2 linked regions of the Homo sapiens genome follow. The protein of the gene in region 1 interacts with the protein of each later gene in a biochemical or structural test. Each region holds a gene or a part of one and is shown on either strand. Other genes may lie near its edges.

Evidence for each region.
Region 2: the proteins of AHSG (region 1) and DCN form a complex in vitro, tested with the Homo sapiens proteins (one study listed by BioGRID).

Annotation. Positions count from the first base shown.
Region 1 is NC_000003.12:186,600,509-186,616,865, forward strand, and holds the start of AHSG (alpha-2-HS-glycoprotein isoform 2 preproprotein), read left to right. Parts: upstream 1-12,551; 5' UTR 12,552-12,633; coding exon 12,634-12,846; intron 12,847-15,176; coding exon 15,177-15,287; intron 15,288-15,934; coding exon 15,935-16,019; intron 16,020-16,357. UniProt on the Homo sapiens protein: Promotes endocytosis, possesses opsonic properties and influences the mineral phase of bone. Shows affinity for calcium and barium ions.
Region 2 is NC_000012.12:91,139,422-91,155,027, reverse strand, and holds the end of DCN (decorin isoform a preproprotein), read left to right. Parts: intron 1-1,838; coding exon 1,839-1,932; intron 1,933-3,235; coding exon 3,236-3,374; intron 3,375-8,775; coding exon 8,776-8,970; 3' UTR 8,971-14,544; downstream 14,545-15,606. UniProt on the Homo sapiens protein: May affect the rate of fibrils formation.

The sequences.
Region 1 (16,357 bases):
GAGTGAAACTCCATCTCAAAAAAGAAAGAAAGAAAAAAGAAAAATCAAAGCTTGTTGAGCAAGTGGCAAGGTTCAATATTTATGCAAATCTAAGGAATACAACAACATGTACATTGGCACGTCATTCACAATATGCTGAGTTAATATAAGTGATGACAGTCATATGTTCATAGACATACAATTTCAAATGCAAATTTTAGGATAGTCAGTTGAGGGTAGAAATTGTGAGATTTTTAAAAGAAAAATGCCTTTTTCATTTTATGTTGTTTCTCATCTGTGTCACTATGGTATGACTCTAGGTGATTTTGTAAGAGCCAACACTTGCACTGTTTTCTGAACAACTCCAGGCTTCTGTTTGGGGAAACCCACCCTGAGGGAGTGAAGCAGGAGTTGTCGCACTGTGGGGCACACGACACAGGGCAGGATTTGGATCCTGGTCAGAATTCTGCCTCTACCTCTTGCCAGCTGTGCAAATCCCTACACAGAAGTTGTGATATAAAAGATCAAGAGAGCAAGATAGATGATGAGAATTGTATATTTTTTCTTTTCTCTTCCTTCCTTCGTTTCTCTTTCCTTCCTTCCTTCCCTCTTCCTTCCTTTCTTCCCTCCCTCACTCCCTCCCTTCCTTACTTCCTTCCTTCCCTCCCTTCCTTCCTTCCTTCCTTCCTTCCTTCCTTCCTTCCTTTCTTTTTCTTTCTTTTCTTTCTCTCTCTCCCTTCCCTTCCCTTTTCTTTTCTTTTCTTTTCTTTCCATGTTTTGCTACATTGCACAGGCTGGACTCAAACTCCTGGGCTCCTAGTAGTCTCATCAGCTACTAGATACTCCTAGAAGCTGGTGATACTATAGGCACATGCCATGACACCAAGCTTGATAGGGATTCTTAATTGATTTTTCCCTTGGTCTGTATTTGATCTATTATTTGACCTGTTTTAAGTATTTTTCTTTTATTTAAATGACAATTTTTTCCCATTTTTTCGAGTCAGGGTCTCACTCTGTCACCCAGGCTGGAGCGCAGTGGTATGATCATAGCTCACTGCAGCCTCAACCTCCTGGGCTGAAGCAATCCTTCCACCTTAGCCTTCAGTGTAGCTGGGAATGCAGGTGCACGCCACCATAACAGTTATTTTTTTTGTTTTTCCTAGAGACAGCATCTCACCATATTGCTGGGCTGTTCTCAAACTCCTAGGCTTAAGTGGTCCTCCCAACTTGGCTTCTCAAAGTGCTGGGATTATAGGTATGAGCCACCACGCCCAGCCTCAATTCCATATTTTTCTTTTTTTTTTTTTTTGAGATGGAGTCTCACTTTGTCACCTAGGCCGGAGTGCAGTGGCACAATCTCGGCTCACCACAACCTCCACCTACCAGGTTCAAGTGATTCTCCTGCCTCAGCCTCCCGAGTAGCTGGGATTACAGGCGCCCATCACCACTCCCAGCTAATTTTTGTTTTTAGTAGAGACTGAGTTTCACCAGGTTGGCCAGGCTGGTCTCAAACTCCTGACCTCAGGTGATCCGCCTGCCTTGGCCTCCCAAAGTGCTGGGATTACAGGCTTGAGCCACCGCGCCCGGCAGTGACCATATTTTCAATTTAAAATTTCTGATTCTTTAAAAAATCTGCTTTTCTCCAGCTGTGCCTTGAGGTTTCGATGAATAACATGGCTGGATTTAATTTATTAGTTGGGCAGGCACCTAGCAGAGTGGTAATTGGAAGAAAGGATTTTAAAGACCTTGAAAAAGGCTCCCTATAGAAAGGCCACCTGAGCATGGCATTCCTGTGGAAGGGCCTAGATGTGAGCAGCTCAAGAGCAGACTCCAGGTTCACAAGGATTTCTACCATTCCCTAAGCAAAGTCCATACTCCTACACCTCGACTTTGCCAACATATTCCTTCCAACCGATAGCCGTACTCCCATTTCTATCTATCCAAATCCTGCCCATCCTTCAGGGTCAAATTCAAAGTGTCCCCTGTCCACAACACCTTCTTTCCTCTCCCCCTGTCCACCCTCAGCTGGAAATGATCCACTCCCCCCACCCCACCCCCACTCTCCTGCAAATGCCTACAGCACTTGGTTCCTCTAACGTACTAGTTATGATTAATGACTGGCTATATGATTTACATGGCCCAATGCAAGATGAAAACCCAGGGCCCTTGCTAAAAATTCAGGCTGGTCAACATGGTGAACCCCTGTCTCTACTAAAAATACAAAACTTAGCCAGGCAGGGTGGCACATGCCTGTAGTCCCAGCTACTCAGGAGGCTGAGGCGGGAGAATCGTTTGAACCTGGGAGGCGGAGGTTGCAGTGAGCCGAGATCGCACCATTGCACTCTAGCCTGGGTAAAAGACCGAGACTCTGTCTTGAATAAAAAAAGAATTTCAAGACAGCCACAGCAGAACATTCCACAGGCACAGGGTCCTTTTAAGTGCAGGGGCCTGCACAGGACACACACCTGGAAAGCCAGCCCTGGTGATTATACTTGCAGACTCCAATGGGAAGCTGAAAGTCCACTGGGCAAACACAATCTTTTAAATGCCTACGGAATCCCCTCCCAGGGAAGCTTCTGAGCTGCTCGCCTCTCCTTCCTCAGCCCTGTTTCATTGTCCCAGCACCTCTGTGCCTGCTTCTCCACCTTGCAGGAAACTTAGCTGTGTACTCGCATCCTGAGCCCCAACCAGCCACTCTGACCTATGCCTACTGCCTTCTTCTCTTTGAGTCCTGCCTCATTGGGTTCCCTGAGTTGGCCGCTGTTCCTTGTAGCACAAAGAATGGGGAAAGATTGATCGGTTACTTTCCTACAGTACCACTATCCCCCTTTTGTTCCGGTTCCTCTTGTTACAGGAAGTTGCCGACACACAACCCTCTCTTTGCCAGCCTGTTGATGGAAAAAGATGTGACCTCTAGCACTGTTTACCTGTTATATTTCTACCGTCTGAGTAAGTGGTAATATAGCCGCTTACCTGATGCCAGGAATGCTAAGCATACCGTATTACTTAATGCTCTCATTAGTCCTTTGAAGTATACATTGCTGCTATTCCTTTTACAGAAGGATAAAATGAGATGCAGTGAGTTAAGTAATTTGCCTGAGTTGTTAAAGCTAAGGAACCCTTACTCTTAGCCACCAGGATGTATCGCTTCTAGAGACAGGCCACTCGAAGGCAAAGACCGTATCTTGGTCTTTAGTGTTCCCTATATTGCCTCTTTGTGCTCTCAGTCCTAGTGTATTATTAGAGCTATAAAGAACTCTCATTTATCGGCCAGGCGCGGTGGCTCATGCTTGTAATCCCAGCACTTTGGGAGGCCAAAGCGGGTGGATCACCTGAGGTCAGGAGTTCGAGAGCAGCCTGGCCAACATGGTGAAACCCCATCTCTACTAAAAATACAAAAATTAGCTGGGTGTGGTGGGCACCTGTAATCCCAGGTTCTCGGGAGCCTGAGGCAGGAGAATCGCATGAACCCAGAAGGTGGCGGTTATAGCAAGCCGAGATCGCGCCACTGCACTCCAGCCTGGGCGACAGAGTGAAACTCCATCCCAAAAAACAACAACAAAAAAGGACTCCCATTTATTGATACCTTACCCTGTGCCAGGCCCTACGCTGAGCATTTTGCAAATGTTATCTCACTAAATTTTCAGCTCATCTCTACTAGCCAGGTTTTACTGCCCGTATTTAACAGATGAAGAAACAAAGGCAGAGCCAGATTTAATCTCTAGTTAGGTCACATAGCAAGTAAATAGTGGCACCAGGGTTTGGACTTGGGTCTATCCTGATTCTCCATGTAAGCTCCCTCATCAGGTTGCTCCCACACCTCTTCCTCCCACCCATCCAGCCTCTCTCCATCTTACCCTTACCTTCCTGCAAGTATCCATCCTCCCACGCCTCAGTCTCCATTAGAATCTGAATTCTGGCAGGGCGCGGTGGCTCACGCCTGTAATCCCAGCACTTTGGGAGGTCAAGGCAGGCAGATCACCTGACGTTAGGAGTTCGAGACCAGCCTGGCCAACATGGTGAAACCCCATCTCTACTAAAAATATCAAAAATCAGCCGAGCGTAGTGGCGGGCACCTGTACTGTAATCCCAGCTACTCGAGGCTGAGACAGGAGAATCGCTTGAACCCAGGAGGTGGCGAGATTGTGCCACTGTACTCCAGCCTGGGTGAGAAGAGCAAAACTCCGTCTCAAAACAAAACAAAACAAAACAAAAACAAAAGAATCTAAATTCTGGAGGCTCAATCTGTTGTTTAACCTACCAAATGATCTCGCTGCCTGTTGCATAATCCCAGCACAGACAGAAAACTGCCCACATTAGCTGCCCTGTCCCTGTGATCTGCACCTTCTCAATTTCAATTTGTCTCCTTTTACTATTCTAACAAGAGCATGAGAGGCAAAGACTGCCCATATCCTCAAGTGTATTCAAGAGATCAGACAACAAAGAGTGAAGAAATGCTACAGCCAAGAGCCATGCCAGATCCAAGCAGAGTAGGAGGCTTAGTCCCCTCTTATGGGTCTTCCATTAGCCTCATATATTTTCCCTCTCAACATTCAAGAAGTCTCATCAAGGTAGTCTATGGAGAAGAAGGACTTGTTTGTTGGTTTCATTGTTAATCTTTCTGAGGGTCCAGATATGCCTCTGAAAACCAAGAGAACCCCTCCTGTCCTGCCAGTAGCAGCTGGCTAATCTTCATCCTGTAATTGTTGAATTGTCCACATGTACACACATGTGCATGCACCAGATCACACCCACTCAGAGAGCTAAGAATTAATTTCACTCCTAATCACAGGATGATTCATCCTATTATTTAATCATTGGTGCTAGTCTTGCCTGGTCAATAGGATGATGATGTAGTCTCAAAACTAATTCACCTGAGAAGTATGTAAAGGAATAGGGATATTGGAGGCCAGAGAAGGAAAACAAGATACAGCACAGATGTCTCTAAATACCTGAAGCATAATATAGAGACCAGGGATTTAGTCTGTATAGTGTTTTAGTTCGGGTAACTCCCGAGGGCAGAATCTGGGTTTGTTGGTCAGGTTACAAGGCAGGCAGGGAAATCTCTTAGTAATCAGTGTGAAGCAACAATGGAATGGGCTGCAGGAGTGGGAGAGAGGCCCTCATATCTCCACATCCTCAAGCAGACACCAAACACTGGAAGGAAGCTCTGCATTGAGTGATGGGCTGGTCCAGAGCAACCCCGTCAGTGATCAGGTTTGGGGCCCAACTGTGCTGGGCAGGAGGCAGGTGCTGGAAATCAAGGGTAAATAAGGCATGGACACTGCTGTCATCTGGAGACCCTTCCACCTCAGGGACTGTGCTCCTCAGGCTGAGGGCAAGAACCACAGCTTACACTTCCCTCGTGTGTTCACAATAGTTGTATGGCATCAGACCCAACAGTGAACACCCAGAAGACAAGAATTATACCTTCCATTTGTGTTTCCTTAGCACCTAGCACAATGTCCAAGAAACAGTTTTGAAGTTAAGGAATGTGTCCAGAGAATACCCAATATGTGTCAATAAATGGATCCACAGAATCTTCAATATTGACTCATTGTTGAAAGGACCCATTTTAATCCCAATAGCCTGCATGATGGATAAAGAAGTGCCTAAATGTAATAAGGAGCAATGAATTACTTGACTCCAGTGGCCTCTGTGTAACCTTCACTGGTAAGGCCATGGCTTTTCTGAAAATCTCCGTGACCAAGGACATCAGCAAGCATAGCACAGGGCTCATTAGAAGAAGATGATTTCACCTGCCATCTTCCTTCTTGTCTGAAGAGTGCCACTCACTCGCCTTGCTTTGAAGACATCAAAGTCTGGTGACAGAAACCAGCAGGAAAGATGGATGTGACTATATGCATTGACTACCATTTTCCCTGAAAAACATCTGACTAGAAACAGTGTAATCATTTACCCTTTATTTACCTTCTAAACCTGAAATAGAGATAACTTTAAGACCGGCTGAGTCATTGCTAAAGTCAACAAGTCAAAGTGTTTTTTGGAAAAACTAAGATCCAGATATTTTCTACTGACTGAAATTATGGGCACAAACTAACTTTTAAATTATTTAATTGTTGACCAAACTCAATACATTTTTCTATTCCTTTCTTTTTTATATTTTACATTTTTATTTTCATATCAACAAGATTGAGTTTGAATCAGTTTTCTTTTCTAATATAGCAACATGCAGCCATGTTTTCTTTTTTATTATTACTATACTTTAAGTTCTAGGGTACATGTGCACAAGGTGCAGGTTAGTAACATATGTATACATGTGCCATGTCGGTGTGCTGCACCCATTAACTCATCATCTACATTATGTATTTCTCCTAATGCTATCCCTCCCCCCTCCCCCCACCCCACGACAGGCCCCGGTGCGTGATGTTCCCCACCCTGTGTCCAAGTGTCCTCATTGTTCAATTGTTCAATTCCCACCTATGAGTGAGAACATGCGGTGTTTGGTTTTCTGTCCTTGCAATAGTTTGCTCAGAATTATGGTTTCCAGCTTCATCCGTGTCCCTACAAAGGACATGAACTCATCCTTTTTTAATGCAGCCATGTTTTCTATTCTCAAGAATAATGATTTACTCAATTTAGTGTCTAGCAGGAGACTGGTGTCTAGCAGCCAACCTCCTCAGCTTTTCTTGGGTCCCTTATACTTTTGGTTTGGAGTTAATACAGAAATAAAGTGATTGGGCTAAATCCAGGCCCTTCCATTTTCTTGGCGTGTGATGTGGTCAAGTTCCAGAACCTCTCAGCCTTTTTTCCCTCTGTAAAGGAGGAAGGATAAGAATAGTTCAGCTCTCATGCCTTTTATGAATAAGTCAGTAACAGGAGCTATGATGATGCTGTTTTCCTGAGCAGGTGCTGTTCCAGGCCTGGAAAGCTCAAATCTCCCCATTTCTTTAACCGTGAAGTGATTCTCTTATAAGACAGAATGTTTAAGTGAGTGTCAAGGCCACACTAAACAGTATGTAGCAGTAAGTCTCCTTCCTATTGTACAAAAGAGAATGGAAGGTTTCCCATTGTTTCTTATGTGATGATGAAAAGTTTACTGCAAGGACTGCTGTGTTTTGGGGCCCATTGCACACATAGGATCACCAGCCCAAATGTTAAAAGAACTTCCCTTGAAAGAGAAAAAATATTTGATGAAGTAGAAACGTTTTTTCTTTTTTGGAGACGGGGTCTTACTCTGTCACCCAGGCTGGAGTGCAATGGCGCGATCTTGGCTCACTGCAACCTCCACCTCCCGGATTCAAGCGATTCTTCTACCTCAGCCTCCCGAGTAGCTGGGATTACAGGTGCGCACCACTATGCCTGGCTAATTTTTGTGTTTTTAGTAGAGATGGGGTTTCTTCATGTTGGCCAGGCTGGTCTCAAGCTCCTGACCTCAGGTGATCCACGCTCCTTGGCCTCCCAAAGTGCAGGGATTACAGGTGTGAGTCACCGCATCCAGCCAGAAACATTTTTTCTATCCTGGGTTTCGATTATGCCTCTTCCGCAGGGCAGGACAAAGGTACAGCAAGAGAGGCCTAGAGCACAACACTTAAGAAGCAGCAACCTCAAGGGAGAGGCCTCCTTGAAATTTGCACCTTTACCCACTCCCTTGCCCTACTCTAGTCCAGGCCTTACTGTTCCCTTTATATGTTCTCAAATGCAATTTCCTTTCTGGGGTTTGGATTTGCAGAGCTAGGTCCTGCTTATCAGGGCAGCGTTGGAGGAAGGCTTGCAGAGCCCTTTTTCCACCCCAAAAGATGGAGCCATTACTTATGGTCATTTTTGCCACCTGCGGTTGGGCCCACATCTCCCAACTTTGGTGCTGAGTACAAGGGGCTCTTCCTAATTATGGGTTGATGACTTCCAGGGTGCTTGGTGCTAAGTTACTTTCACAAGAAACCAGATGGGTCCTTGGACAAAGGTAATTTGCTTTCATTCACTGGTGCTTTGCATTGGCGAAGTAAATCCCAACCTGTCTCCACAGGAAAATATGATAATTTGTATAATAATATTATGATAGTTTCATATATTAACATAAAGTTCTTTGCTGATCAGGCATTGCCGGACTAAATGAGTCAAGATGAGCTCCTCCAGAGCATGTGGTTCTCATCACTCTGTGTCCAGGCATCTGATAACACAGATAGTAGGTGCTCAATAAATGTTTGTTCATTGAACATATGAATGAAGAAACACCCAGTCTTTGAGTGAAATTAATACCCAGTCTATCAGGGCCTAGGCCCTTTAAGTACCAGAAAGGGCAGAGCCATGAACCTGACCTAATGATTTAAAAACCAACCACTGCTATTTCCTCCCTACAGAAACCAGTTGTCCTTCTGGCTTTTGCTGACAGGCACTTTTTCATCTTCTGTTTTGTGAGAGGCTGGTTTCTAGCTATCACCTTAGCTCTTGCTGCCTGACGGGATATTTCATATCTTTCTATATCTATCCTCTCCCTCCTATACCCACATCCACTAATGGAACCAACCTCTGAGAAACTCTGACCCTGAGCTCTGACCCTGGTGATCTTTGTTGTTGTGGCTCCTGGCCTGCAACTATAAACACTGAATTCTGCCTTGGAATAGTTTAAATACAACACTTGCCCTAGTGGCTCCCTGGCAAAGAGTCCTTTTGACAAATTCAGGAACCCTGGTGCCATCCTTAGCTGCTGCTCTACTTTGGATGTTTGTCCCCCCACGTCTCATGTTGAAATGTAATCCCCAATGTTGGAGGTGGGGCCTAATGGGAGGTGTTTGGGTCATGGAGACAGATCCCTCATGAAGGGCTTGGTGCCATCCTGGTGGTAATGAATGAATTCCTGCTATATTATTTTCCGTGAGAGCTGGTTGTTAAAAAAAGAAAGAAAGAAAGAAAAAGCCGGGCATCTCTCCTCTCTCTCACCAAGAGCTTGCGCACGCCAGCTCTTCTTTGCCTTCCGCCATGAGTGGAAGCAGCCTATAGCCCTCACCAGAAGCAGATGCCGGTGTCATGCTTCTTGTACAGCCTGCGAACCATGAGCCAAATAAACCTCTTTTCTGTATAAATTACCCAGCCTCAGGTTTTTCTTTATAGAAACACAGATGGACTAAGACAGCTGCCATCTTGAGATTTCTGCCATCAGCCACACAAGGGTTGCACCCAGCAAGCACTGCCCGGCACCCTGCTGCCATCTCCTGGAGATTGTTGATCCTCTCCTGCTCCTTAGACTGTTGGGCCTGCTCTCCTTGACCAGTTCTAACAAGCCCTTGATATCCTCAATACACTATCAGCCATCATAGTGTGAATGGAATGAGGATTATTTTATTGCTGTGATGTGAGCCTCATAGAAAAATGCACAGAAAAGTAACTAAAATAATGCAGCAAAGGACCAGAAAATGGAGGAAATGCCTATCTCCTACTGATATGCAAAGAAGCTGGAGCCAGTTGGATCAAACTGACCCAAGATTACTCATGAGTATATGTATTCAGCACGTGAAGATCACTCATGAGTCCCATATACATTTGGCAAGTGAGAATCTTTTAAAGTTTAAAACTGGTGTCATCAGGCACAGGGAACTACCCATTGGCACTAATGCTACAGCCATCTTGGAAAACATACCAAAATATCATCTATTTTCTTCCTCATTTCCAGTAAGTAAATGGCAACATTTCTTTCTAAGGAAACTGAAAAAATCTAAGGGATCATTTTACTCAGCTTGATACCAAAGTTATTTTAGTTTATAAGTATTAGACATATGGAGTAGCTGTGATAAAAGCAAAGATATTCATAAATTACATTTTTAAAAAAGAATTCTGAGAGTGTTCACATATCTAAGTTCCCACAAAAGTCAGCATGAAAGCAGTAACAGAGGAAAAGAGAAAACAGCTGAGCTGACATCACACAACAGCTAAATGGAAGGGGGATAAATTGGCATAGCCAAATAGACTATTTGACTATAAAAATTAAGAGCTTTAAAAATGTGCAAATCATTAGAATCAATAATTTTACTTCTAAAAATCTATCCTGAAAAAAAGAATCAAAAGCCAAAGATTCCTAAATAAAAAAGTGTGTTTTTTTGTTTTTTTGTTTTTTGTTTTTTTTTTGTTTTTTTTTGTTTTTTGTTTTGAGACAGAGTCTCACTCTGTTGCCCAAGCTGGAGTGCAGTGGCACAATCTCCCCTCACTGCAACCTCTGCCTCCCAGGTTCAAGTGATTCTCCTGCCTCAGCCTCCCAAGTAGCTGAGATTACAGGCGTCCAGCACCACGCCCAGCCAATTTTTTGTATTTTTAGTAGAGATGGGGTTTCACCATGTTGGCCAGGATGCTCTCTATCTGTTGACCTCATGATCCACCTGCCTTGGCCTCCCAAAGTGCTGGGATTACAGGTGTAAGCCACCGTGCCTGGCCTGTAAACATGTTTTTAAGTCTACTTAATGACATAGGAAAATATTCAAGTTAAAGCAATAGGTGAAAAAATTTTAACAGCTGTATATGCAGTATAATCAAAATTATATTAAAATATTATTTTACATAGAAAAAAAGAAAAGATATAAATGCATCAAAACATTAACACTGTTTATCTCTGCATGATGAGATTGTGAATGATTTCTTTTTTGAGACAGAGTCTCATTCTGTTGGCTGGGCTGGAGTGCAGTGGCACTATCATAGCTCACTGCAACCATAGCCTACTCCAGGTCTTATGCTATCATCCTGCCTTCATAGTTGGGATTACAGGTGTGTGCCACCTTACCACACTTTATTCAATTTTTCTTTTTTTTGAGTCGGAGTCCCACTCCGTTGCCAGGCTGGAGTGCAGTGGCGCAATCTTGGCTCACTGCAACCTCCACCTCCTGGGTTCAAGTGATTCTCCTGTCTCGGCCTCCCGAGTAGGTGGGACTACAGGCGCGCGCCACCACGCCCAGCTAATTTTTGTATTTTTAGAAGAGACAGGGTTTCACTGTGTTGGTCAGGTTGGGCTCAATCTCTAGGCCTCGTGATCTGCCCACCTCAGCCTCCCAAAGTGCTGGAATTACAGGTGTGAACCACCGTGCCCAGCCCTTCAATATTTTTAAAGATTATATAAAGAAAAGCATAGCTTCCACACACAGTTCAGGAGTCAGGGCCCTGAGTGAAATGGAGTATAAGGTGATGGAAGATTGCCCCTGGCTTTGAGGATCATCTTGCTGGATGACCAGAGTTTGTTTTTCATCTGGAAGAATCATGGTCCCCCTCTTGGAGAGAACCTGGAGTCCTGGCCACACCTTCTGAGCTTCTGACATTAAGATTCGGTGTGGTGTGTGAGCAGCTGGGAGTAAATGTGAGAACAGTCCTGCCAACTACCTTCTCTGCCCCATCACCACTCACTTCACCTCCCTCACCCCGATTCTCACCCCAGAAAATCAATATTAAGCTTCCCTTTGGAGGGGCCCCTCTTCTTTCTTTTTTTTTTAACCAGTTTTTTTTTCTCTGAAGCAATATCAAACATTAGAACAAATTCACCCACACACAATGATGGCCTCTAAATATTTGAAGACCATGTTGGTCTCCATGAGAGGGCTTCTTTGCTTCAGACTAAACCAAACCAGGTCCTTGTGTGATATTTCCCAAGCCTCTCTTTATCCTGCCAACCCTCCTTGGATGTCACACTTGGAATTGTCAAGGGTCACTTAATAGGCAGTGCCTGGAGTCAACACTGGCCCTCTGTTCTGGCCAGAAAGACACACTGTAATTCTGCTGAGTCTGCAAAGAATGTTCAAGGGGTATTTGTGTCCGTAGCTGCTCGTGCAGCATCTCAGCCTGCGGTGTCAGACTCGAACCCAGAGCTGTGTCAAATGAGTCAGGACTCCCCTCTGCTGCCCTTGTGCACTGGCAGGGGCACTAGGTTACTAGTGCTAGGAGACTCTGGTCAGTGCCCATCTGTGCTGTCACATGCAGGGCCCTGGCAGTGAGGTCTGGAGAAGGAAGAGAAGGGGCAGGGAACCCCACACGTTTTGCTGGTCATTTCCCACCGTGGTCCTGCCACGGGAACCCCCTTCTTCCACCTCCATTCCCCACTTTAGGCAGAAACATCTCTCATCCTTTTTCTTTTCTCCAAGAATCTTCCCCCAAAATCTTGGCATCTCCTATACACATCTGTACCTTTGCTATATCTGTGGGCCTTGTTCTCCCTGTAGGACTCCTCTTGGAAAGCTAACTCCCCCTGACATTGGAGAATTTTATCAAATTGCTGAGTATCCTCCCTTCCCTCTCACAGACCCCATGGCATGCTCAGATCACAGTAGAAGACATTTCCTCTGCTGCCAAACCCATGGCACTCTGAGGCTGACTGTGTCCACCTCATTCCCTCAGCTGTCTTCTCTTTGCTGCTATTACCATGTTCCAAGCAGACTTTGGAGCATCTCCCCCACAGCAGCATGGACTTTGGCAGATTTCTTGGGGACCAGCGATGTCCTAACCTGTTTGCTTTTCCAGGGCTGATGTTTGCAGGGTGTTTTTTTTTTTCTTTTGAACCAAAGCAGAAATCATCCTGTATCCTTATGCAATTCTTCCGGCAGGCTCCAACAGATAAATAAAGCCCACCACCCTCCATGGGTCTACCTTTCCCAGCAGAGCACCTGGGTTGGTCCCGAAGCCTCCAACCACCTGCACGCCTGCCAGGGCCTCTCTGGGGCAGCCATGAAGTCCCTCGTCCTGCTCCTTTGTCTTGCTCAGCTCTGGGGCTGCCACTCAGCCCCACATGGCCCAGGGCTGATTTATAGACAACCGAACTGCGATGATCCAGAAACTGAGGAAGCAGCTCTGGTGGCTATAGACTACATCAATCAAAACCTTCCTTGGGGATACAAACACACCTTGAACCAGATTGATGAAGTAAAGGTGTGGCCTCAGGTAAGTGGACCTGCTGTCTATGAGCTGAAATAATGTGTACATGGAGCTCAATCAGGTGCCTCAAAAAATCACCATCACCCAGTGCAAATGAAACCACAGAGGAGTAAATTCTCTGATTTCTTCCCAGGAGTGAGGGAAGGGGCAGGCAGAGGGCAGGAGAGGAGACATTCTGTATGGCAGTCATGGGTGTCAGGAGGGAGCTGGGTGGGGTGTGAGGTGGTGTGCAGGAGAAAAAGTGCTTCAAATGGTAGTGTGCAGATCACAGACAGAAAGTGTAACTTGCTGGAAAAACTAGGACCCAAGAGACCAGCTCCTAGTTGCCAAGTTACCACTGGCTGAAAATCACGTATCTGTCTTTGGTTTGGTTTCTCTCTAACAAAGACTGAGAATGAATAAAACTAGCATCTGGCAGATGCCTACTATATGCCAGGCCCATTCACATAGATTATCTCATTTACTCTTTCCCGGTCCTGCCTCCTGGTGCTGTGTGGTACATATATTGTTCTTGTCTTACCCAAGAGGAGACCAAGGCTCTGTTGTGTGTGTGTGTGCAGTTTTTTTGTTTTTTGTTTTTGTCTTTTTTTTTTTGGTCCAAAATCATATAATTACTAAGTCTTCAGGCTGGGATTTGATTCCATATCTGTGTTCCTTCTTCTACACAAACTGCCTCCCAAAGAGAGTTACCCACATCCCAGAGAGAAGTCTTGGCATAAACACAATTCACCTCCTCACACACTAGACAGGAAACCAACGCAGCTTGAAGCCAGTGACAAGAAAAATCAAGCTGGAAATATGCCTCGGGGATCAGTCAAGAGATTTGGAGAGGTGGAAAGAAGCTGTCTGCCTACTGCCTGTTTTGAAATTAGATTTATTTCTGATTAAGGACAATTCTTTCAGCAAATATGTATTACAAGCCTTCCTTGGACAAGAACCAGAGATATTAGGTTGAACCATATAAAACTGCCATTTTTCTATATCAAAAGCAACCAAATATTGGCCGTTTTAATGGTTCAACCTAATACAGTGGTGAAAAAGGCACAATATGTGCCCACAAGAGCTTACAATCTAGGTTGGAAAATAAGGTCAACAACAGGAAGCCTGGACCGACTGACGACTGCCATCCGTCTCACAAAGAGACAAAATATTTGAAATCAGGATTGCTCCGGATGGATTTTAAGAGTGCTGCAGCCATATTAAAGCACAGTGGTGGTTAGGAGGAAACGCTGATCAAGTCAGGGGAAATGAACACGCAACACGCACATCTGAGGGAAAAGGTAATCATGAATGGGCATTGTGACTTTTACTAAAGGCAGAGCTTCAGAGTTGGTTCCCTTGAGAAACCCAGGTGTACCCGGTTCCTGTTCGCCAGAGCTGTGAACGCTTTCAGGCAGTCACTCTGGGCACACCTGGACATCATAAAATGCGGAGCTTCTCCCAGGGGAGGGGATGCTGAGGCTTCAGGTACTAGTGAATCAGGCAGAACCAATGAGAGGCAAACAGAGCTGGGCTGAGAGGAGAAAAGGCATACTTGTACCTTCTGGATTTTTCAGGCTTCGAAGACAAGATACAGAAACAGGTGAACTCACAAGAATATCTCCAAGGATTGTTGCAAGCTCCCTCGTGTCTACACTAGTGACATCCAGTTTCCTGTCAGAGGGAGACATGCCCTTCCCCATTATCGCCAGCAGGGGGAAGTAGAGAGCAGCATCGTTGCATGCCGGCACCTGCTGCACAAGCCAAGACAAAGGAAAAACCAAGGACAACAGCAGCAAAAACCTCTAGGAGGGAAAAGAAAACGGAGGAAGGAAGGAAAGCAAATAATGAAAAGGAAGAAAGAAAGAAGGAGAGGGAGGGATAGAGGAGATTAAAAAAAGACAGTAAGATATTACCCTACACCACCTTATTTTGCAGCTTGTCTGAGAAAAATCCAAACTTGCATTTTCCAAAGCACTGCTTGAAGAGTGAAATCTTAAAAAATTAAATAAATAATAAATACAAATAAGTGTTAACACCCATTTGTAGTTTTCAAATAGAGCTCAGAGTGAGGGCTGTGGCTCCATCGACTTGTTCAAGCCCAGGACCCCGTCTGCTTTGCGAGCATCATCTGGTGCTTCCTTAATCAACAGACGAAGACCAGACAAGCCCTGGTCATTGTCCTGCCCACAGGCCAGTTCAGAGCTAGACGGAGTTGCAGACTGACAGTAAGAATGACATTTCCCTCACCTCTCCAAAAGCGGGGTGCTCTCAAGCCCAATGAGGGCGCATACCGTGGACCGCACCACAGGATCAGGGGAATAGGTTGCTCACGGCTTCACTCTTTGTCTCCACAGCAGCCCTCCGGAGAGCTGTTTGAGATTGAAATAGACACCCTGGAAACCACCTGCCATGTGCTGGACCCCACCCCTGTGGCAAGATGCAGCGTGAGGCAGCTGAAGGAGCATGTGAGTACCCTTCTTAGGATGACTGTAGGTGGCCCTTCGGCCAGCTCCACCGATTCACCCAGCGTCTCAGCCTGCCTTCTTGGCTAGCCAGGGTGCAGTTTCTAAAATTGCCATTTGTGGCCGAGCGCAGTGGCTCATGCCTATAATCTCAGCACTTTGGGAGGCTGAGGCAAGTGGATCGCCTGAGGTCAGGAGTTCAAGACCAGCCTGGCCAGTATGGTGAAACCCCATCTCTACTAAAAATACAAAAATTAGCTGGACGTGGTGACGGGCACCTGTAAATCCCAGCTCCTCGGGAGGCTGAGGCAGGAGAATCGCTTGAACCCGGGAGGTGGAGGTTGCAGTGAGCCAAGATCCTGCCATTGCACTCCAGCCTGGGCAACAACAGTGAATCTCTATCTCGAAATAATAATAATAATAATCATCATCATAAATAAAATTGCCATTTGATGCCACTTGCCCTGGGGCTGATTTTTACAAGCGTTTAACTATATCGTTGTATCCCTGAAAGCAGAGAGTGCCATGTTTCAGTATTACCCAGCAAAGGCGATTTTGCAAGGGTCACCTTTGACAGCCGTGCCTGGAGGGAGCCTGCCCGGGGTGCGAAGGGGAAGGGCAGCCATCCTCACGTGGGTTTCTTTCTCCAGGCTGTCGAAGGAGACTGTGATTTCCAGCTGTTGAAACTAGATGGCAAGTTTTCCGTGGTATACGCAAAATGTGATTCCAGTCCAGGTACAGATGACTATTCTTATTCTCATTTTTTCCTTGTAGAGAAAGTGGGGAAGGGATCTGAATAATTTTCAACTTAAGTAGTTCTAGCAGCTTTGTCGGTGAGGAAAAGGAGAAGCCAAATTTCCTGGGTTCTGGGATTTTTAAAATTGTGTTTTAAGAAGCTACTCTTGGCCTGGTGCGGTGGCTCACGCCTGTAATCCACCCACCCGAGGCAGGTGGATCACCTGAAGTCAGAAGTTCGAGACCAGCCTGGCCAACATAGTGAAACCCCCATCTCTACTAAAAATACAAAAATGTGGTGGTGCTCGCCTGTAATCCCAGCTACTAGGGAGGCTGAG
Region 2 (15,606 bases), on another chromosome or scaffold:
ATATTTTCTCCCATCACTCATGGAAATGGAAAGGCAGTAGAAAGTAGTGTAGAGACTATAAAAATCATACACTTAGATCAACCTGGGTGAGAGACCTAACTCAGTCATTTAGTTGTACTGTGACTTTAGGATAATTATTCTGCATTTCTATAACCTCAGGTTTGTTAGATGTTACATGGAGCTATTAATAACCCTGTCTACTAGGATTATTGTGAGGATTACTCTATAGAAGTAAGGCTTGTATTGTACACGCAAGTACTTGGCCCAATGTAAACCTCAATATATTTTATCTTAAAAAAGGAAAAGAAAAAAGAAAATTTAAAATAAATGAACAAACAAATAAATAAAATAACTGGAGTATGGGTTCTTTAACTCAATGCCACAGTTGCAGAAGCTAATGATGCACTTTACAAATTTGTCTATCTCAAACCTATTGCAAGGTTTTCTCCCATAGTCAAACTTCTTCTTAGCTATAACTTTACATTTGGGAAACTGACATCCCAAAAAGGGAGACACTTTGAAACTAAGTAAGGCCGATGGTTGTGATAGCAATTGGTGTACTGGAGGCACTGCATTAAAAAATATACATTTTGCATTACTTTGTAATTACTTTGTAACTTTGAGTCTTATTTATTTAACTGTGAAAAGGGATTAGTGACCAATAATTTATGTTTTGAGAGGCTTAAAGGATTTGAAGTAGGAAAAGTGCCAAGGTCAATGTTCGGTGCGTAACAGACATACAATAAATAGATGTTCCTTTTCCTAGCAGCTCTAACACAAAATATGCTACCATAGGAAACTAAGAATCATTTTCAAGTCAAATATGGACTAAACTATTTTATTAAATGGACAATATTGACAGAATTCAGTGTGATGTGATAAAAATTTTAGACAAAATGAAACCTGTGGTTTTTCAATTCTGTGTCTTTATAGACAAATAGCCAAGACTTTCTGCCAATCAGATGTTCTTTCTACACTTAACCAATTTGCTATTTTCTCTGTATCTATTGCTATTAAGTGGAACAATATGTTATTTTAAAAGCTGTATAAAATATAATACAGCCTCAGATGCTAGGAGGAAATGAAAATAAAATATTTAAACTTTTATATTTATAATACTCGATCTTTGGAAATCACAGCCATGCAAGTACTATCTAGAGGTTTAGTGGGTACTTTGGATGTAAAATTATTACCCCAGGTGCTCCACATATGGCAGATCACTTGATTATAGACCTCTCCACTCCTTCTGCATAAACATTCTGGATTTAATAGGCATAAGTAAATGTTAGCTGTTTCTACACAGACATTTTGCAGAGGTATTTGATGCTTTTATGGAAAAGTCAATTAAGGCTAAGACCAGCACAGTATATCAGTGTTAATTTTTAATGATGCTCATTAATGAAATAGACAATTAAGTTTGTACATGGGTTTAATTTATACGTAATCTCTTCATTATGGTTCGAATAGTGACTTTCCCACTTTATAATTACTATCTTTTATCAACGTCAGTTTTAGCCCATTAACAAAGGTGGAAGAGAATAATGAGACTCAGCGTTGACTTCAGTTCTTCTATTCCAAGAACAAAAATTGACTACATGATAGAAATCATCCAGGTTTTTGTTAAAGTCAACCTAAGAGAAAAATAGCAAGGGCTTCCACTACTTCCAAAAGCACACATTATTATAAAAGGGATGAAAAAAAAAGATAAAAGTAAAGCTGATTCTTTGAAACTGTGTGTCTTTTAGAAAATTGATGGCATATGTCTTCTTTAAGTTTGTCCACATTCTGTACTTATAATGTTTATCTGCTAATTTAACATCTTTAATTCCACATTCCAGGTCTTCCTCCTTCCCTTACGGAATTACATCTTGATGGCAACAAAATCAGCAGAGTTGATGCAGCTAGCCTGAAAGGACTGAATAATTTGGCTAAGTAATAATATTCTTTCATGACATTCTATCAGAACAATGGCTAGGTATATTAGTGCTTATATGATAAGAATTATAAACATGATGATTGATTTTTGAGTGTACTACATTTCACTGCTGTTGTTGTTTCTATAATCTCAAACTTCAGCATATCCAATTATTTCTTGAGAAGAAGCCAATGAAATAGTGCCCTTACTAAAACCACCAAGATCAGCTTCATATTTTATTAATACTATACTGTTTATAGATTAGTTATATTTTATACACAAAGTGTGTGATTAAATCAATATGTGCATTTAATATGTTCTAACTTATTTGCATCAAACAGAAAGTTAAGTAAATTATAACACAGTTGCTAGAATTTGAAAATCCATTAAAATGAAATCTACCAAGACAGAGAAATATTGAGCATCACACAAATTACTATTTTAATAATTATGAGATTCTCTAACCCCCTCTTCTCTGAAAAGTTTAAAATAAAATATCTCTGGGCATTTAATGTAGATCAACAAAAGAAAAGCTTTTGTTGTTGTTGTTTTTGCTGGCCCTTCTTAATGATTTTTTTTAAAATAAGTGATACTAGTACTTGTCCTGGTTTCAAACATAACTTCAATCTGGCAAACGTTTTCACTTGTCTTCAAGGAACACTATGTTCTTTTTGATCTGTACATATTGCTGACTGTCCCTACAGAGAAGCACACTATCATGCCAGATTTACTCATTCCTGTTGTTATATATAAATTTCATGGTGGATAAATAAATATAAAATATATCTTTGAATGTGTATATATATATATATGCATGTGTGTGTGTATAATCAACTCCTTTACTAGGTAAAATATTCTTTGATGGGAAAAGTGGTTTTTGATCCATGAGACCTCTGTCCCTCACAATGCCTAGCATAATATCATGCACATAAGTTTTCAAGAATATTTGTTTATTAAATATACAAATAAATGTTTGAATAAGTGAACAGTTTTTAAAAATAAACTATTAGGAATATTATGTTCCAATATTATGGTTGACCATAATTTGATGTTGGAACTTAGGATATTATAAGGAATAGGAGACTATGTCCAATCACGTTCTGTCAGATGAATCTCAAAGACAGTAACTTTGAGCCGAGACCTTAACAATAAATGGACTTTGTCCAGGCTCAGAGAGGTTGGAGAAAGCACTCCAAGAACTGGGAAGAGTAAGTGCAAAAACAAAAAATGTCCTTTCCTATAGACTTGATTAACTACACAATGCTTGTAAGAAAGGCATCCATGTGTGGTGTTTGCTTTCATTTCTGCTTTCTGTTGCAGGTTGGGATTGAGTTTCAACAGCATCTCTGCTGTTGACAATGGCTCTCTGGCCAACACGCCTCATCTGAGGGAGCTTCACTTGGACAACAACAAGCTTACCAGAGTACCTGGTGGGCTGGCAGAGCATAAGTACATCCAGGTAATGCAAAGCCACTGCTTATGTGAGGAATATCCAAAAAGCAAGACCCCCACCCTGCTTATGGGATGCTGGGAAGCAGGAAGCTCTTCTTAGAAGTTTTTTTTCCAGAGTGTCTTAGTTAGAATTTCTATGACAAAATACCATAAAAAAAATTAAATCATGAAGCACAATTTACATTAGCTAGATTTCAATAAAGTTTTTGATTTAGAAGTATGGAGATGAAACTTAAAGTCTTCTGTAATGCTGATATTTTTTTCAGTAGGGGTGGTGATGTTGGTGCCATAGTGAGTAGGGGGAGTTTGAAGCCACAAGTAAAATAAAAATTCTTTTTTTTTACTGTCACTAATTTTAATTTTCAAATTATTCAAGAATTGACTGGAAAGAGCTTCTTTGGTCTAGCTCCTGATTCTTTTTGACATGGCCTCATCATTTTTCTTTATTTCCTCTAAAAAAAAAATGAGATACGTTTGCAGAATGTGCAGGTTTGTTATATAGGTATACGTGTGCCATGGTGGTTTGCTGGCCCTACTGACCCATCCTCTAAGTTCGCCCGCTCACCCCCTACCCCCTGTTGTGTGTTTTGTTACCCTCTCTGTGTCCGTGTGTTCTCAGCATTCAACTTCCATTTATGCGTGAGAACATGCAGTATTTGGTTTTCTGTTCCTGTGTTAGTTTGCTGAGGATGATGGCTTCTAGTTTCATCCATGTCCTTGTAAAGGACATGATCCCATTCCTTTTTATGGCTGCATAGTATTCCACGGTGTATATGTACCACATTTCCTTTATCCAGTCTATCATTGATGTGCATTTGGATTGGTTCCATGTTTTTGCTATTGTAAAATAGTGCTGCAATAAACATTATGTGTGCATATGTCTTTATAGTAGAATGATTTATATTTCTTTGGGTATATACCCAGTAATGGGATTGCTGGGTCAAATGGTATTTCTGGTTCTACATCCTTGAGGAATTGCTACACTGTCTTTCACAATGGTTGAACTAATTTATGCTCTCACCAACAATGTAAAAGCACTCCTATTTCTCCACAGCCTCATCAGCATCTACTGTTTCCTGACTTTTTAATAATCACCATACTGACTGGCATGAGATAATATCTCATCTCCAGCCACAGGGAATCATTAATCTATTTTATCATTTTTGTTTGTTTCATAGACCATAGTTTTGTGTAGATTCCAGGAATACTTTAACATCTAGAAATTTTATAATTTTAACTCCTGTATTTGGTTTTATAATCTAATTTTGAGATAATCCTAGTATATGATATGAGTCTAATTCATTTTCTGTATGTGATAGCAATTGTCCCAATGTCATTTGTTGGAAATAATATTCTTTCTCCAATGAATTGTCTTGTCACTGTTGAAAATCACTCGATCATAAATGTAAGGGTTTATTTCTGGACTTTCAATTCTATTACATTTATCTATATGTCTAGTCATATGACAGTATTATACCCTTCAATTACTGTAGCTTTTGATTACGTTTTGAAATTAGAAAATGTAGGTTCTCCAACTTTGTTCTTTTTTTTCAAAGTTATTTTGGCTATTCTGGTTCCTTTGCATTCCATATCAATTTTAGGATCTACTTTTTCATTTCTGGAAAAATATTCTTGTAAGGCTTTGAAAGGTATTGTTTTGAATCTACAGATCATTGGGAAGAATTACTATCTTAATAATATTGAGCCTTCCAAGTCACAAACAAGGGTTATTTATATCTTCTTTTCTTTTTCTCAACAGTTTTTGTCATTTTTAGCATACATGCCTTGCAATTCTTTTACTACATTCATTGTTTTTCATTCTTTTTGATGCTGTTTTGAATTGTTAATTTTTTTATTTGTTTGCTGCTAATGTATAAACATACAATTGATGTTTATATATTGAGCTATCCTGGTACTATGCCAAATTTGTTTTTAGTTGCAGTAATTTTTGTGAGTTCCTTTGGATATTCTATATTCAGGATATATTATTTAAAAATAGACAGCTTTAGTTATTTTATTTGGATTCTTTTAGGTCTCCCCCTCCCCCACAACCCACCCTTTGCATTGGCTGGAATCGCCAGTGCAATGTTGAACAAAGGTGATGAAATTAGACATCTTTGCCTTATTTGCTAGTTTAGGAGGAGGGAGCATTCATTTTACCATTAGTTACGATGTTAGCCACAGGTCTTCTATAGATGCTCTTTATCAAGTTGAGGAAGTTCCCTTCTATTTCTGATTTACTGAAAACATTTATTATGAATTTTTTTCTTACATGTTTTTCCTGCTTCTATTGAGATAATCATGCGAGTTTTGGCCTTTATATTTTTGATATAGTGTATTACATTGATATTACTTTGATTGATTTTCATAAGTTAAACCAATTTTACAACCCTGAGATAAATCATGTTTGGTCCTATAGCATGAAATCATTTTATATGTTGTGAAATGTAGCTTCCTAACATTTTGTGAAAGATTTTTTGTCCATATTCATAAGAGGTATTTGATTACATTTTTTTTTCTTATGATGAATTTTGTCTGGCTTTGGTCTTAGAAAATATTGACCCCATAGAATGAGTTTGGAATCTACTTTTATTTTGTTCTACACAGACTAATACTTACGTCTTGATATTTTGTTCTCTCACTTTCAATATTAACCATAAATTGCTCACCAAACACCCCTTCCTTTACTTGCTAATCACTACTGGAATATAGAGGATGGTAAATGACAACAAGAAACTTCCAAAATATGAGAACCATAAACCATACATATAAGTGTTGCTTTCACTTTAATATTCCTTGTTTCTGTTTTTATATGACATCTACTAATTCGCTTTTCAGCCCTTACAAAAACAAAGCCGTTTTCACCAGCACATGAATGTGAATGTCCTAGTGGGTAGAACAATATTTCAAATTTTTTTTTTTTTTTTTTTTTTTTTTTTGAGTCGGAGCGTCTCGCTCTGTCACCTAGGCTGGACTGCATACAATGGCACAATCTCGGCTCACTGCAACCTCCGCCTCTCGGGTTCAAGAAATTCTCCTGCCTCAGCCTCCCGAGTAGCTGGGATTACAGGCACGTGCCGCCATGCCATGCTAATTTTTGTATTTTTAGTAGAAACGGGGTTTCATCATGTTGGTGAGGCTGGTCTTGAACACCTGACCTCATGATCCATCCGCCTCGGCCTCCCAAAGTGCTGAGATTACAGACATAAGCCACCACGCCCAGGCTTTCAAGTTATGTTTTAAGGGAGTACTTCATAGGTTTTATAGCTCACTTAAGATCTTGTTGGTGGCAGGACGCAGTGGCTCATGCCAGTAATCCCAGCACTTTGGGAGGCTGAGGTGGGCGGATCACGATGTCAGGAGATCGAGACCATCCTGGCTAACATGGTGAAACCCCCTCTCTACTAAAAATACAAAAAATTAGCCGGGCGTGGTGGTGGGCGCCTGTAGTCCCAGCTACTCGGGAGGCTGAGGCAGGAGAATGGCGTGAACCCGGGAGGCGGAGCTTGCAGTGAGCCGAGATTGCGACACCGCACTTCAGCCTGGATAACAGCGCGAGACTCCGTCTCAGAAAAAAAAAAAAAAAAGACCTTGTTGTCTTAGTGTTATATTCTAACCTTGCTTGTATGATTTCAGAGAAGTTGCTTCTTGACCTACAGAACTCATATCCTCAAAGTGAACTGTAAACTCATTTCTAACATTCTTTGTATAATTCCGGTTTTTAGGGACCCTAAGAAAATCTATGGCCAAATTACCATTATCTTAAACATGATTGTAAAACATAATTCAGAAAAAAAACTCTGATTAATTATATTGCACTGTATTCAAGTAAAACGTATTACGTAAAATATGTATTTGTTAAAACTTCCTAGGTCTATTCTAAATGCTGTGATGTTTAAATATTTAAGAATTTCTTGGAGTTTGTGATTCTTTATTTCAATTCCAGTACTTTATGCTCTCTTTTTCTTTTTCACTACACAGCACTTTCTCATTCTATATCATTTTGTTAAAAGGTGTATATATTTTTTGTCCTGAAAACATAATATTTCATGTAGACCCAATATAGTCATGTAGACCTGATATATGAAATAACATTTATTCATTCAACACATATTTATTGAACACCTGGTCTGTTCTAGTACTGGAGATACAGCCATAAACAAGCAGAACCATTCTTGTCTCATGGAGCTTTTACTCTAGAGGAGAGAAACAAACAATATCAAATAAGCATAATATGCTACATATTGATAATGCTATGAAGAAAAACATGTAACGTAATTCTGCCCCAGAGAATGGCAGAATGGGATGGTCAGGGAAGGTCTCTCTGGTAAGAAAAAACGACTTACATGAGGCAACAAGCCTTGAAGACACCTTAGAGATTATTCCAGGTTGAGTAAACGGTGTTGATAACTTAAGAAGAGATCATGCTTTGTGCATTAGAAGAGCAGCAAGTAGACCAGATGACTGGCTTTTACAGTAAGAGAAAAGGAGGTCAGAGTAGAAGGATGTCAGATCATGTAGGATTTGTAGGCCCCTTTGAGAACTTTAGATTTTATTATTCTGCATGAGATTGGAAACCACTGGAGTTCTGAGGCAAAGAACATATAATTTGGTTTACTTTCTAAAGCAATTGCTCTGAGAGCTTAAAAAAAGAATAAAATTTAGGAAGGCAAAAGGGGAAGCAGGAATAATAATCAGGGCAACTTCAATCATTTGGAAGGAAACAATGGTGACTTGGACAAGGTTGTCGGAGTAGAGGTGGAGAGAACTAGATTAAGTGTACATTTTGAAGGCTGAGCTAGCAAGATTTGTTGTTGATTATGTAGAGAGCATAAGAGAATTGGAGCTCAAGGATAATGACAATGTATATAGCCTGAGCATCTGAAATGATTGGCATGCAATTTACTGAGATGGGGAAGACAAGACTAAAGAAGGGAAAAGCAAATTTTCAAAAGGAAGGGAGAAATCAAAAGTTTAATCTGAGAAGTAGTCAGTTATTCAAAGTGGGGCCTGTCGTGGTGGCTTACGCCTGTAATCCAAGCACTTCAGGAGGCTGAGGTGGCCGGATCACTTGAGGTCAGAAGTTCTAGACCAGCCTGGCCAACATGGTGAAAACCCAACTCTACTAAAAACAAAAATTAGCCGGGCATGGTGTGTGTGCCTGTAGTCCCGGCTACTCAGTAGGCTGAGGCAGGAGAATAGCTTCAACCTGTGAGGCAGAGGCTGCAATGCACTGAGGTCATGCCACTGCACTCCAGCCTGGGTGACAAAGCAAGATTCCATCTCAAAAAAAAAAAAAAAAAAAAAAAGTGAAGGATTAAAAAATAATAAAAAAAATAAAATGTTTACCTGAAGGGCCTCAACATATTTAGAGAATAATAATTATTTTCTATCGTTTCATGTTGTAGGTTGTCTACCTTCATAACAACAATATCTCTGTAGTTGGATCAAGTGACTTCTGCCCACCTGGACACAACACCAAAAAGGCTTCTTATTCGGGTGTGAGTCTTTTCAGCAACCCGGTCCAGTACTGGGAGATACAGCCATCCACCTTCAGATGTGTCTACGTGCGCTCTGCCATTCAACTCGGAAACTATAAGTAATTCTCAAGAAAGCCCTCATTTTTATAACCTGGCAAAATCTTGTTAATGTCATTGCTAAAAAATAAATAAAAGCTAGATACTGGAAACCTAACTGCAATGTGGATGTTTTACCCACATGACTTATTATGCATAAAGCCAAATTTCCAGTTTAAGTAATTGCCTACAATAAAAAGAAATTTTGCCTGCCATTTTCAGAATCATCTTTTGAAGCTTTCTGTTGATGTTAACTGAGCTACTAGAGATATTCTTATTTCACTAAATGTAAAATTTGGAGTAAATATATATGTCAATATTTAGTAAAGCTTTTCTTTTTTAATTTCCAGGAAAAAATAAAAAGAGTATGAGTCTTCTGTAATTCATTGAGCAGTTAGCTCATTTGAGATAAAGTCAAATGCCAAACACTAGCTCTGTATTAATCCCCATCATTACTGGTAAAGCCTCATTTGAATGTGTGAATTCAATACAGGCTATGTAAAATTTTTACTAATGTCATTATTTTGAAAAAATAAATTTAAAAATACATTCAAAATTACTATTGTATACAAGCTTAATTGTTAATATTCCCTAAACACAATTTTATGAAGGGAGAAGACATTGGTTTGTTGACAATAACAGTACATCTTTTCAAGTTCTCAGCTATTTCTTCTACCTCTCCCTATCTTACATTTGAGTATGGTAACTTATGTCATCTATGTTGAATGTAAGCTTATAAAGCACAAAGCATACATTTCCTGACTGGTCTAGAGAACTGATGTTTCAATTTACCCCTCTGCTAAATAAATATTAAAACTATCATGTGACTTCATGTAATCAGGCTGAACATTTCTACAATTACTAGATGTATTAGACGTAAGTATTTTCTTTAGTTAAACCACCCATGTTAGAAATGTTTTCTGTAGAATTTATAAACAACTATCAATGCAGACAATTTAATAAGCCTGGGGATGATTTACTTACAGTAAACATTTATCAAATTGTACATTTGTGCTATCAACAATTAATAAGCAAATATGTGAAAATAGTTTCTGTCTTCTATGAAGTTAGATATTTGATGGTTAAAACCCCTATAAATCATAGTTTCATATGGGAAAAAATAATTGAAATACAGTGTAAATTTAAATAATTTATTAAGTATAGCAAATAATTGAAATATGGTGGACTAAATTTTGTCATAGAAATATGTGCAAGTTATAGTAGTGGCTCACATGAGAGGTAATCAATTCTGCTAATAGTAGCAGAATGAGTGCAGTGGAACATGAAAAACTTGAGGAGATAACAGTTGAGGTGGGTTTCCATAGATGCATAATAGTTCAAGAGCAAGATTTGGTGGGGAGGCACTATTCAAGACAGGGACTAAGTTCAAAATCCAAGACGTATGCTGGGACACACCTCTGACAGGTTGGCATAAAGGAGGCTTAATCAAACTATTTTTCTTCTTCTGAAACAGAAGCAATAATTTTCATTTACATTTGACATATCCCGAGGTAATATTAACATTAGGGAAAGTTACTCTTTTCCATCTTTCCACATTCTTGCAGGACCATAAAATCTGAATTTTCCAGTATTTTTAATAAGAGGGAAGAAACCTCTCTTTTTCTTCTCTTTTTCATCTCCCAAGAGATCCTCCTCTCATGACTACAGTTGAATAGGTGGTTTCTATTGGAAGACATTCAGGAATTCAAGGTGCATGTCCATAAATGGACTTTTTTTGTTGTTGTTCAGAGCTGGACCTTGAATGATGCATCCTTCTCTCTGTTGTAACCATGAATAATGCACCCTTCATGCTATAGCCTTTAACGATTCACCCTTCTTATTGTAACCTTGAATGATTCACCCTTTATGGTGTAGCCTTGAGTGACGCACCCTTCATGTTGTAGCCTTCAATGATGCACACTCCATGTTATAGCCTTGAATGATATACCCTTTATGCTGCAGCCTTTCTCTTATGGGGAAAAGCCTGCAGATATCCTGCTGCTTAACTGACAAGTGTGGTGAGAAATAAGTAGAAATCTAAAGAGGGGAAGACCATTTTGGACACTTATCTGCAAGGCAGATCCAACACACTTTTCCAGTAGTCAAGCTACTTCTAATTTTGTTCAGTATCAAAATGAGAAACAGGCCTGATTCTCCAGCACTCTTGTCAACACAACTTCCCCCCATATTTATATATATACACACACATATATATCTTTATATATATACACACATATATATCTTTATATATATATATTTATATATATATCTTTTTGCATATATACATATATATGTATCTTTATTTCCTTTGAAATAAAGATAAATATAGCTGATTTCTTTGGCTTCGACACTTACTATTTGCATGACTAAGGGAAGCTAGTTAACCTTTCTGTGACTCATTTCCTTGTCCATAAAATGGGAATATTAATTGTACATGTCTTATGGATTGGTGTGTGAATTCAGTTAGCGAGTGTAGAATATAACTTATAGATCAAAGTAGAGTAAATGGAAAGGGCTCAACTATGGTGTTGCTACTGCCATTGTTATTACAGGCACACAGTTCGAGCTATAATCATTTCAAGGGAAATTCTTATGTGTCAGTTCTGGATCGAGGTCTGAGATTCTGCATTTCAAACAAACTTCCAGGAATGCTGCTGCTTCTTGGTCCACACTTGGAGAAATAAGTCAGCAGAGAGTCCTCTCGTTTCCTATTGTACCATGTCTGTCTTTTGTCTCCTGCTTATTGGCCTCTGTAAGGAACTCACAGCTGCTATAATAAAGTACCAAAAACTGGGTGGCTTAAAACAACAGAAACTTACTTTCTCACAATTCTGGAGGCTAAAAATTCAAAATCAAGGTGTCAGCAGGGTCAGATTCCTTCCAAAGCCTTTAGGAGAGGACCTTTCCTTGCTCCTCCTAGGTTTCTGGTTAAATCTAGGTGTTCTTTGCCTTATGGCAGCGTGACTCTAATTTATGCCTCCATCTTCACCCTCACATGGCCTTCTCTCTCATGTGTTTGTGTCTTTTCTCTTCTTCTTCTATGAACATGAGTTATATTGGATTAAGGCTCACCCTAATTTAGTATGAACCCATCTTAACTTGATTATATCTGCAAAGACTCTATTTCCAAATGAAGTCAGACTCACAGGTATTGGGGGTTTGATATTGAACATATCTTCTGGGAGGAGACACAACTTAATCATTAATATCCACTTTCTTTTTTCCTTATTAAATGTTTAATTTTTTTGTTTTCATTAAAACTGTTGTTCGATTATGGGTGCTTCACATAAAAGGTTGGAAACTTAAAAATTTGTCTCTGACCCCTCCTGGTTGGAAAGGCCTCTGTTGTACATTTATGCTAGCCTAGGCCATACCACTTTCTGTCTTCAGTACAGCCATCTTAGTTTATTCAAGTGACACAGATTTTCCAGAACACAGTATTCATGATCTTTTAAAGCATTTTTCTTCAAAGACTTTGATCTGGCAATAAATGTTACTATGTAATTCTCATGACATAAATTAGGCATAACTTGGATCTCCTCTTCTTCTGCTCATTCATTTGTCTGAATCATCACTATTATCTTTTTTATATTCCTTTACCGTTCTCCATAATGCTTTTCCAAGAAACTGGTTTATTCCACAATTTTATTGCAGAGGCAGCTGCAGGATATCATAATCTTATCTTTATACGAAGGAAGAATTGCCTAATCCCTCAAGTAAACTAAAAATGTTTTATACAGTCATTTCTCATTCATCCAATGTTCCAGGCAGTCCCAGTCCAAGACTGCCCCTTCACACACACAACAACTCTTCACAAGACTTCACTGTCCTTCAGACTCTCCTGCAGCACAGACATTCGAGGTTGCTGAGTCGACATTGCAGTTATTTCACTCTTGATTTTGCTGCTCAATTTTAAGTTTCCACACTTATTGCTAAAACATTCCTTCTAGTGGATCTGTTTATGTATTCAAGCACACCATCTGTCACAATTATTTCAAATCACAGGTCTGTGACAGACTGTCAATTTCACACCACAAAGTATAATAGTGGAAAACAAAGTAAAATCAAGAAAGGGAGAACACTAAACTTATTAAAACCATATACAAGCATACGCATTCAGGAAACTAAAACAACCTTCAAAGAAGTTGAACAATTTTGAGCCAAAAGAAAGGGCATATGCACACCCTACCCCAGTATAAGATAACCAGAAAAGGACTGGGTGAGTTGCCTCCTGAGTATTATGACTGCCATCAATCACTTAGGCATTGGAGATCAGGAGACTCTTCCCAGGCCACACATTCTGCAGTGACTGTGAGGGCTGAATGAATGCTTCCAGGCCATCAGGAACAAGCATAGAAACACAAATCAATTTTAAAATACACTCAAAAATGTCAAAATAATCCAACTTTTTTGTCTTGATCAGATATATCTACTAGCACATATTACTTCATTTTTTCAGCCAATATTTATTAATAACCTACTGTGTGCTTGACAGTGTTCTAGTGGCAGAGACACAGCAGTGCATAATGCCTTGCCCTCTGAAGCAGATGTTGCAGCAGGAGGAGACATTCCAGGACATGACAATTAAAGTGGAGGAATGTCAAGCAGAACTGGGGAATAAGGGATGTGAAGGGGGTGAGACTTGCTATTTTATATAGGATGGTCGGAAAAAGGACTTATCAGGAGTGACATTTGAGCAGGGAGATGAAGAACTGAAGGGAGCAAGCCAAGAAAAGAGGCCCTGAATTTGGAAAATACATGGCACGTTCCAACAAGAGCAGAGAGGACAAACGTGAGCAGAGTAAAGTGAGCAAGAAGAGATAATATATGATACAAGGTCAGAAAGGTAATGACAATCGCATCCTGTAGGACTTTTTAGGCCATTGTAAAGATGAGCTTTTACTCTGAGTAAGACAGAGAGCTATTAGAGGGGTCTCGGTAGAGGAGTGACTTGATTCAACTGTCTTTGAGAGGATCCCTTTGCGTGTATAGACTGTAAGGTAACAGGAATAGGCCAAGAGAGAATATTTCGGATGCTAGTGCAATAATCAGGTGAGAGATGATGAAGACTTTGACCTGGATAATAGTAGAAAAATTGTTGAGAAGGGATCAAAATATGGGGTTTGTTTTGATGGTAGAGAGGCCAGGGATGGCTGAATGATCAGATGGGGCATGAGAGAGAAAGAAAAGAAACAGAGATGACTTCAGGAATTTTGGCCTGGGCCACTGGAAGGATGAAGTCACCATTTACTGAGATGGTAATGACTGGGAGGTTGAGCTGGAAGAACTGAGAATCAAATATCTGGTTTTGAATCTGTTCTTTTTGAGATGCATATTCAACTTCCATATGGAGGTGTCAAGGAGGATTTAGATCTAGAATTTTGGAGCTCAAGGGAAAGGGTTGAGCTGTAGACATAAATTCTAGAGATGCCGGAATATAGATTGTGATCCTTCTTTATCAGCACAGAAATGACTTGACTTTGTCCAAACTAAGCAATCATACTGTACATGTTAGCAACACATTTTACAGGGCCAATTTGGCCTTTTGCAATGTTCTGTGGTTTCTAAGATAAATAAACATATTATATGTTTCCCTCTGGATGCCTTTGCTATGATCCTGTCAGCATTTCCAAAACAGTTCTTGCTTGAACACCACCAAGGAAAGAAAAAAACCTCTTGAGAAAGAAATCATTGTTTTTTTTTTTTTTTTTTTAAATCCCTGTGTTTTGGCTTATGAGTTTAAAACTTACAAAAACAGTCTAGTTTCTGTTTTCTTCAAGAATTCACATTAACAAAAGTGTGGCTTGGTGCCTGTTTTGAATGTGAGTTGATAACTTGCTGGTGGTTTGACAGTTATAAACAAACAGTCTTATAGCATAAAGAAAGCATATTCCTGAAACTGCAGGAGGTCTCATTGAGCCTCAGGCACTATACCAGCATGTTTAACTAGAAAATCATGAAAACACATACAACTTCTATAGCTAAGGCCATTTTTACATGGAATTGCAGCATAAAATGACTCCATCTAATTCTGTAAAAGTTTATATTGATGACTACTTTATAAAGCACCCATATTGCCACTTGGTCTGACAAAGATATGTGAAAAATATAAAAAATTTCTTGAAGTAATTTATTTTTCCCCCTCTTTCCACAAAACCAGGTATGTGTGTGTGTGTGGTTATTGTCTTCCAATCTTAACATGTTTATATGACAGAAAATAAAATTTTAATCTAACCATTCATTCATTTACTCCACTAATTCACATATTTATTGAGTACTTAGAATATGACAGGAACTATGCTAGGTCTAGAGAAAATAGAAAAAAAAAGTGCATTTTCCTCCCTCTAGTAGATAACTTTGGAATGTGAAAGTGATATATTTCAATAAACTTGAAAATTGAACAAAAAGACAATATCTGAGAAGGTTCTGAAAGGAAATGAAAGTCAAAAGTATTACATACCCATTCACGATTAAAAATTATAATGTTAAACAAATTTCCTGTGGCTGTCCTGACTTCAGGAAAAACATCTGGAACATTGTAAGAAATACCAGGCCACCTACAAATCACAAGACAAAGCTTTTACTGAGGTTCAGGAAATGATAAACAAAGCTTATGGGACCAGATGTTTCTGGATGCTGTTATTTTGATTAAGATGATTCTTC